2 separate regions of the Homo sapiens genome follow, and region 1 is linked to region 2. Evidence: fine-mapped expression QTL. A gene starts in region 2. The other region holds a variant in brackets. All regions are shown on one strand. Distances are between the middles of the regions. Region 1 overlaps PPP4R2 (protein phosphatase 4 regulatory subunit 2). Region 2 holds the start of PPP4R2 (protein phosphatase 4 regulatory subunit 2).

Region 1 (4,390 bases), 46 kb after region 2:
ATAGAGAGAGTAATTTGTGTTTTAAAATTAGTCCTTTTAAAAATGTCATAATTTTATGTAAGCAACTCAGTGTTTTCTTACTTTTGCAGATCTTTCACTTATTTAATTCAGTATTCAGATTAAATATACTTGTTTTGTTTGCCTCAGTCATATAATTAAGACTGAATTATTTGACATTTTAAGTCATCTGATTGAAATATCTGCCTTTTAAACATTAAGTGTATTTTAAGCCTGTCACCTTTAATGAATGATCATCTCCATTAGATTTTATTTATTCATTCTTCTCAGATTCCCGTTTGATGTTTATAAATGGTGCAGTATTTGCTATCCTTTGGAGTAGCTAATAGTAGTAGGACTCTCCTGAGCTTTGTTGTGCTCTTAGTGTTCCTCACACTTTGTGTGCAATGCAGATAGGCTGAGTAGAGAGTAATCTTAGTAGAACTGGAAATGTTAGGAACCAGTACGTTAAGGTGGTTGGCCGCTGGCCACTAAATTGTTGTAGCACCACTTGGGAAAAGAAAAGATGGATTTTCTGTCCTTAAGCCTCTGGAAAATACCTTTAGCCTTTAGAGAATTGTGAGAGAAACATGTTTGAATATGAACTTGTGAGTTCCTATGGAGAAAAAAGGTCAATGTAAAATCTAGCACCAGGATATATTTATTAGAGATATGAATTGTACTTTCCTACAGGAGAAACTGCAAAAATGGGAAAATGGAAGGGGAGAAGAAAAAGGAAGTGAAGGGAGGTGAAGCTACTTAGTTAATGGTGATTAATTTCAGTACATTATTGAGTTAATTTCAGTAAAGTAGATTTAAATTTTGAGTATGTATTTTATTGGAGGGGATTTTATGTGGAGAAATTTGTTCTGAAGTTGAAAATGTGTTTATGTCTTATGAGCATCTTTTTAGAATAATTTGATTTTCATATTGAAAGCCAAGGGTTTTTTTGTTCTCATTTCTACTCATCCAGTGAGTGTACATTCCTAAGAAATTGTTTTTGTTGCCAAGTTTTTAGTTGATTTGCGCATGGCCTGTTTTTTGTGCCTGAATATAATTTCTTTTTTTTTTTTTTTTTTTTTGAGATGGAGTCTCGCTGTGTCACCCAGGCTGGAGTGCGGTGCTGCAATCTTGGCTCACTGCAACCTCCGCCTCCTGGGTTCAAACAATTCTCCTGTCTCAGCCTCCCGAGTAGCTGGGAATACAGGTTTGTGCCACCACACCCAGCTAATTTTTGTATTTTTAGTAGAGACAGGATTTCACCATGTTGGCCAGGATGGTCTTGGTCTCTTGACCTTGTGATAAGCCCGCCTCGGCCTCCCAAAGTGCTGGGATTACATCCGTGAGCCACCGCGCCTGGCCCCTGAATTATATAACTTTTAGGGAAGCATTTTCTGTTTTTGTTTTTATCAAATAGTTGTCCTCCATCAAAAAGCTGTATCTTTCACATTTTATGAATGCCCTCCCCATATATATATGTGGAATAGTATCACTTGAATTGCATCGTATTGATCTAATTTAGAGTAACTGCTTGATTTATTTGAAAGTTAAGACTACAGTGTGTTCATAATTCATGTCAATTTATGGGGCTTAATTTCTGTCTCATGAGTTAGTGCCATAGAGTCTTTGAATCTCTTCAGAATTTCCATTACCTGGGATCCCATACCTCTTGTCTGGCTGTTCCCATTAATGTGCTTTTTTTGGACCGCAAACATGTCATGTCAGATGGTTAATGGAAAGATGAGATTAAAACACACCACAAGACTCTGTGCATATGGAAATCTGAACTCACGCTATGAATTGGTGATTATTAAAAGCACAAAAAATTATTAATTTAAGAAATGAAAAGTATAAGCGTCCTATTTCAGTATAACTTGCCCTGGTATGTTTAAGTATGAAGTGCATGTGGAGAGTCTCATAAAATTTAAAGATAAATTTTAGGAACCAAAAGCAATTGTACATTAATAAGGATTAATATTAGGCATATCAAAAATTCTGTGAAATTAAAAATTAAAAATTCTGCTTGTTAAACCTCAAATTCCCCTTTCTAAAATAGGATAGGGAAAGGTGGAAAAAACTAATCATGCAAATAGCTTTTAATTATCCTCACCATTTTTAAAAGTAATAGCATACTTTTAAAATACATAATTCACTCATTTAATAGAATGGAATTGTTGGATTACAAATCTGCATTTACCTTTCTGAGGAACTGCCCAAGTACTTTCCAAAGCAACTACACCATTTTACTTTCCCACCAGTAATGTATGACATTACCAGTTTCCCCACATCAACCCAGCACTCGTTCATTATTCATCTTTTTGATTATAGCCACCCTAGTGGGTGTGAAATGGGTGGTTTTGATTTGCATTTCTCTAATAGATAATAATGCTGAGCATCTTTTCATATGCTTATTGGCCATTTGTGTATCTTCTTTGTGGGGAAATACCTATTGAAATATACCTAATGTAAACCTTACCATTTTAACTATT[T/G]GAAGTGTACAATTTATTGCCAGTAAGTACACTCACGATGTATGTTACCATCACTATCATCCATCTGCAGAACTTTTCATTTACACAAACTTGAAACATTGTACACATTAAAGAATAAGTCCCTTCACCTTCCTCCCCACAGTTCCAGACGACTCTAAATTGACTATTCTTGATAGCTCATATAAGTGGAATCATACAATAGTCGTTCTTTTTGTGTCTGGCTTATTTCACTTTGCATAATGCCATCAAGCTTAATCCATGTCAGAATTTCTTTCAGATTAAAGACTGGATAATATTCGTGTGTGTGTGTGTGTTTATCTCTCACATTTTGCTTATCCATTCATGTGCTGTTGGCACATTTGGGTTGTTTTCACCTTTTGGGGATCTATGGAGAAATGGGATTCCTGAATCATAGGGTGGTTTCATAATTTTTGTTGTTGTTGTTGTTGTTGTTTTTGGAGCAACCAAACTGCTTTCCACAGTGACTGCATTGTTCCTACCAGCAATGCACAAGAGTTTTGGTTTCTTGGCTGGGGGCAGTGGCTCACGCACTTTGGGAGGCTGAGGTGGGCTGATCACGAGGTCAGGAGTTCGAGACCAGCCTGGCCAACATGGTGAAACCCCGTCTCTACTAAAAATACAAAAAGTTAGCTGGACGTAGTGGTAGGCACCTGTAATCCTAGCTACTTGGGAGGCTGAAGCAGGAGAATTGCTTGAACCCAGGAGGCAGAGGTTGCAGTGAGCCGAGGTTGCACCACCACTCTCCAGCCCTGGCAACGGAGTGACACTGTCTCAGAAAGGAAAGTTTCAGTTTCTCTACATCCTTGGCCAGCCAATACTTGTTCACTTGTTTTTTAGATAATAGCCAACCCTAATGGGTGTAAAGTGGTATTGTGATTTGGATTTACATTTCCCCAAGATTAATGGTGTTAAGCATCTTGTGTGTTTGCTATTTGTATATCTTCTTTGGAGAAGTGCGTATTTAAGTACTTTGCCCATTTTTAAATTGGGTCATCTTTTTTGTTAAGTTGTAGGTGTTCTTTATATAATCTGGATATTAACCCCTTATCAGATAAAAGATTTGCAAATATTTTCTCCCATTTCACGATTTGACTTTCTGCTCTGTTGATAGTGTCCTTTGATGCACAAAATTTTAAATTTTGATGTAATTCAATTTATCAATTTTGTTGCTTGTGCTTTTGGTATCACACAGTATCTTTAAGAGACAGGGTCTTGCTCTGTCGCTCAGGCTGGATTCCAGTGGTGTGATCTTGGCTTACTGCAGCCTCTACCTCCTGGGCTCAAGCAATCCTGTTGCCTCGGCCTCTTGAGTAGCTGGGACTACAGGTGCATACCACCATGCCTAATTTAAATTAATTAGTAATTAATTATTTTGTAGAGACGGAGTATTGCTGTTTGCCCAGGCTGGCTTCCAACTCCTGGGCCCAAGTGATCTTCCTGTCTCGGCTTCCCAAAGTGCTGGGATTACAGGCGTGAGCCACCACACCTGGCCTCGTATAATATTTTTATGTCGACACTGGTTGCCTTCAGAATATTTTGGGACTATATCAGGAAGCTTTCAAGCTCACAGTGAAGAATAAAAATTGTCCAGACTTTTAGTTTTTTGCTTAGAAGTTCAAATTTTTATCATTGGTAACAAATACTGTCAGTTATTTATCTTGAAATGACAGGTTCACTTTATTTATTTTTGAGAAAATGTCTACCACATTCTCCTAATTTTTTTTTTTTTTTTGGAAATGGAGTCTTGCTCATCGCCCGGGCTGGCGTGCAGTGATGCAATCCTCAGCTCACTACAACCTCCACCTCCTCAGTTCAAGTGATTCTCCTTGCCTCAGCCTCCTGTGTAGCTGGGATTACAGGCATGCACCACCCCGCCTGGCTAA
Region 2 (4,390 bases):
TCCCTTGGTCCTTCTCTCCCCTCCTTCCTTCCATGACTTTGTGCTATGCTGGGTTTTGGGAAGAGGAGGTGGAACAACGCAGTACCTTTTCTTTTCTTTCTCTCTCTCTCTTTTTTTTTTTTTTTTTTTTTTTTTTGAGACGGAGTCCCATTCTGTCGTGCCCAGGCTGGAGTACAGTGGCTGGAGTATCTCGGCTCACTGCAACCTCAGCCTCCAGGGTTCAAGGGATTCTCCTGCCTCAGCCTCCCGAGTAGCTGCGATTACAGGTGCCCGCCACCAAGCCCAGCTAATTTTTTTTTTTTTGTATTTTTAGCAGAGACAGGGTTTTGCCATGTTGGCCTGGCTGGTATCAAACTCCTGACCTCAGGTGATCCGCCTGCCTCAGACTCCCGAAGTGTTGGGAATACAGGTGTGAGCCACCGTGCCCGGGCAGTACCTTTTCTTTTAAAAGCTCACAGATGAGTATAAAAATGTCCACGCACTGGCTGGGAGCCAGATGATTTGGGTTCTGGGTTCTAGTTCTGTCTCCCCAGACTTGCTGTCTGTGACACAGCTTTCCCATTTGTAAAATGTCAGGGCTGCAGAGGACTTCTGAGGTTTCCGCCCTCTCCTACCTCCTGGGAGATTATGTCATGTAATAATGCTAACAGTGGTAATAAAAACCCAGCCACGTTGAGTGTTCCAGGTTTCACGCACTGTGCCAAATGTTTCACATTTGCCATTTCACTCAATCCTCGTGGCCGTTTTACAACCCTCATTTTATAAATAAGAACCCTGAAGCTGCCTGAGTTTAGGTAACTACTTCAGGGCCACACAAGGAGTAAGTAGTTGAGTTGGGATTTGAATATTGATTCCAAACCTTGAGCTCTTAATGACTTTGCTGTATACATTACTTCTTGCCACAGGTGGGCCAGTGACGAACGAACGTTGGGTTAAGCAGGGAGGTATTCTTGTTAGGATTATTAGCAATGCTTAGTGTATGTATGTATTGTTAATTTTATTATTATTTTTTTGAAACAGTCTCGCTTTGTCGCCTAGGCTGGAGGCAGTGGCGCGATATCGGCTCACTGCAACCTCCGCCTCCTGGATTCAAGCGATTCTCGTGCCTCAGCCTCCCGAGTAACTGGGATTACAGGCACGAGCGACCACGCCCGACTACATTTTGTATTTTTAGTAGAGACGGGGTTTCGCCATGTTGGCCAGGTTGGTCTTCAACTCCTGACTTCAGGTGCTCCGCCCGCCCCAGCCTCCCAAAGTGCTGGGATTACAGGCTTGAGTCACCGCGCCCGGCCTGTATTTATTTTTATATAGAGAAGGGCGAGGGAGCGGGGTCATTTTGTTACCCAGACTGGTCTCGAACTCCTGGGCTCAAGCGATCCTCTCGCCTCGGCCTCCCTCCCAAAGTGTTGGGATCACCGGCCTGAGCCCCCTGCCCGGCCTCGCTCTACGTTTTTTAGGCGCATTCTGAACGTGAAGTGTATACACTGAATTCTCACAGCAACTGCATAGGGCATCAGTACCAGTGCCCTTACTGTACAGATGGGGAAAATGAGGCTCAGACAGGCGAAGTAAGTAGCTTAAGTTCACACAGAGAGGAAATGGCAGGGATTCAAAGCCTAGGAGTCCGCCTGCAACCCTCTCGCCTGACCGTCCAGTCTTCAGCTCCGCGGAGCCTGGGCCTGGGGCTGGGGCTGGGGCTGAGGCTCTGGAAGCCGCCGGGACGCAGACGCCACTGGGCCCCAGCGTCACACCTCGGCCGCGCACGCGCTCTCGGGTTCCGGGCCGGAGCGCGCGGCGGGAGCGAGGACGGCGGCAGGGAGCGTGCGCGCGGTGACGTACCGGGCGCCATGTTGGAGGGTTGGTGGTAGCGGCTTGGGGAGGTGCTCGCTCTGTCGGTCTTGCTCTCTCGCACGCTTCCCCCGGCTCCCTTCGTTTCCCCCCCCCGGTCGCCTGCGTGCCGGAGTGTGTGCGAGGGAGGGGGAGGGCGTCGGGGGGGTGGGGGGAGGCGTTCCGGTCCCCAAGAGACCCGCGGAGGGAGGCGGAGGCTGTGAGGGACTCCGGGAAGCCATGGACGTCGAGAGGCTCCAGGAGGCGCTGAAAGGTGGGGGTAGCTGCCCCCTCTCCATTCCCCCTCACCTTCTCCGGCTCGCTCTTCTCTCCTTTCAGGGCGGATGGTTCCGAGGACCGGGGCCGGGCGCGGCGTGGGGAGAGTGCTTCCCGGGCTCCCATCCCCCTCCACCTCCCCAGGGGCGGGGAGCCCTGTGGGCAGCTCTCTCCCGCCCCGCTCTGGCTTTGTGTCGGCCGCCGGCGTCTGGGCTGGGGGAGGGGAGCCGGGGAAACTCTTGCGGGGGCCCCAGTCTTTCTCCCACCCGTTCAGGGGACGAGTGGCGGACCCGCAGACCCCTCCCTCCCAGATATCCTCTTTTCTCCACCAGGCTACCCGTACGCTAGGCGTTGGGGTGGGAGAAAAAGTAAACGGTTGGTGGGGGCGGGGGTAGGGGGTAGCATCGCAACTTTTAAGTTGTCTCAGTATGCCTTTTTCAGGGCTTTTGAAGTCATCTTTCCGCGCCCTAATTTCGAGGTGGTTGCCTTCACTGTTCTTGATTGCACGCCTTCCACGCAACAGGCTTGAGAACAGTGGCTTACAAACTTCGAGTAGAGAGATTTCAGCGTTTTGAGAATTATTCTTTGACATTCAGAATCATTTGGGGACGGCAACTTGGGGTAGTTGGTGCTTCTTAGAAAGGCAGATTTATGGACTTAGATGAACAATTGGTGGGAGTCGGGGCCTGGGGATTTTTATTTTCACTGGATTCCCAGCTTAATATAATGCTGGTGTTCCCCCGGACCACACTTCGAGAAGCACTGCGTTAAAAATGGTTTGTGAAGTTGAGTGCCCCCTTTAGGAGGATTCTTGTTATCTGTAAAGAGGGTGACATGTTGGAAGTAGAACTTGGAGGATTGAGGTGGTAATTTGGTTGAGAGGCCTTATTTTTTTAATTTTGTATTTAATTGATTTTTAATAAGGTAAAGGACTAGGAGGAAAGTTTGTTTTTAGAGCGCTTTTGAGAAAACTGATAACGTTTTTTTTTCTTCCTTCATCTAGATTTTGAGAAGAGGGGGAAAAAGGAAGTTTGTCCTGTCCTGGATCAGTTTCTTTGTCATGTAGCCAAGACTGGAGAAACAATGTGAGTTGAAAACATGCATTTGTCGTTATAGACCAGTGCATTATTAAGAATTGCTCAGGAAAGGGAAAAAAGTATATTTTGGGATAATTAAATAATTCATTCTAAATTGTAGAAGTCCTGGTCATTTAAATAATTTATATATTTACATTTAAAGAACGTATACGCTTACTTACTTTATACATGGTCTGTAACGGATTTTAAAAACCTGTGTATGTTAAAATTTTCTTTATAGCTAGGCTTTGGCACGCTTAGAGAATGTATTAGTCTTAACGAGCCAGAGAAAGGAAGAATGCCTATTCCATTATGACCCTTTTTGGCCATAACAAATAGGCTTATTCCTAGAATTTTGTGGCTTTGATTCTGTTTCAGAGTCTTGGTGGTATTTTCTCATATTGTCGTGTGTCCAGCCTTTTTTTGGTCATATTTGCATATGTAGGTGTTTAAAGTGTCACTTCTATTTATCGTCTGGAGGACTCTGTTATTATCTGACAAATTCCAGATGCTACAGTTTTGACTTGTAGACTTTCTAAGATAGCTGACTTGTTACATATGCTCAGCATTTTATTCAGCTCGTTTCCAAATGTTCTGAATCTGAAACTTACGCTATAAAGTTAGGGCTGTGTTCAGAAGGAACATTCCAGGTCATTGTTTTGCAGTTTGTGTGGTAGACACAATCTGGCTAAGTTTATTTGTAGACAACAGTGCATCTTTGATGACTTCTTTTTGTAGTCTTTGGGTGGGGGCTGGGGCAGCAGGAAAGGGGTAGGTTTCTATGGTTTCAATGTTAATAAGTGGGTTATCTGCCCAGTATGAGTGTAGCTTTCAGCAAGAATTGTATAATTTCTCTGGCTTTATTATTAGCAAGTGTTCATTTCTCACAAGATTTGCTTATTTGTAGTCTAGCCTTTTAACAACTAGCCTAATTTTAGAAAGAAAAAAACCTTTGCTGCCTCAGTGCTTGATTTAATGGTCATGCCTGCAAGCTGAGTCTCCTTAGTATTCTATTAAAATACACCAGTCATTTTGAGAACGTCAGTGTGATGTGTTCAATGTTGTATTTCTATTTATTACATTAAAAAATGGGACCCTCTGGGCGGGGGAAGTCATTTTTACCTTCGCATTAGGGTTTCATATAGAACATCTTGATTTAGAACAATGTAAAACTGTTAATTTGTGCTTATATAGATAAGCCTAAAAATGAC

Evidence for each region. PIP is the estimated chance that this variant, and not a neighbour inherited with it, causes the effect.
Region 1: its variant is the best candidate, but not a certain one, in a credible set for the expression of PPP4R2 in fibroblasts (GTEx, PIP 0.86).

What each region holds. Positions count from the first base shown.
Region 1 is chr3:73,041,304-73,045,693 of GRCh38, forward strand. The region is part of intron 2 of PPP4R2 (protein phosphatase 4 regulatory subunit 2); the gene reads left to right. Among named protein-coding and RNA genes, the nearest start is that of EBLN2, 18 kb to the right of the region's middle. The variant T/G (reference allele first, on the strand shown) is at 2,487.
Region 2 is chr3:72,994,971-72,999,360 of GRCh38, forward strand. PPP4R2 (protein phosphatase 4 regulatory subunit 2) reads left to right here and starts at 1,841. Exons shown (of 9, transcript NM_174907.4): 1 at 1,841-2,101; 2 at 3,107-3,188. The coding sequence starts at 2,068. LOC124909395 (a long non-coding RNA gene) reads right to left here and starts at 2,221. Exons shown (of 2, transcript XR_007095961.1): 1 at 2,137-2,221. RefSeq lists enhancers at 1,466-1,515, 2,776-2,825 and a silencer at 1,696-2,325.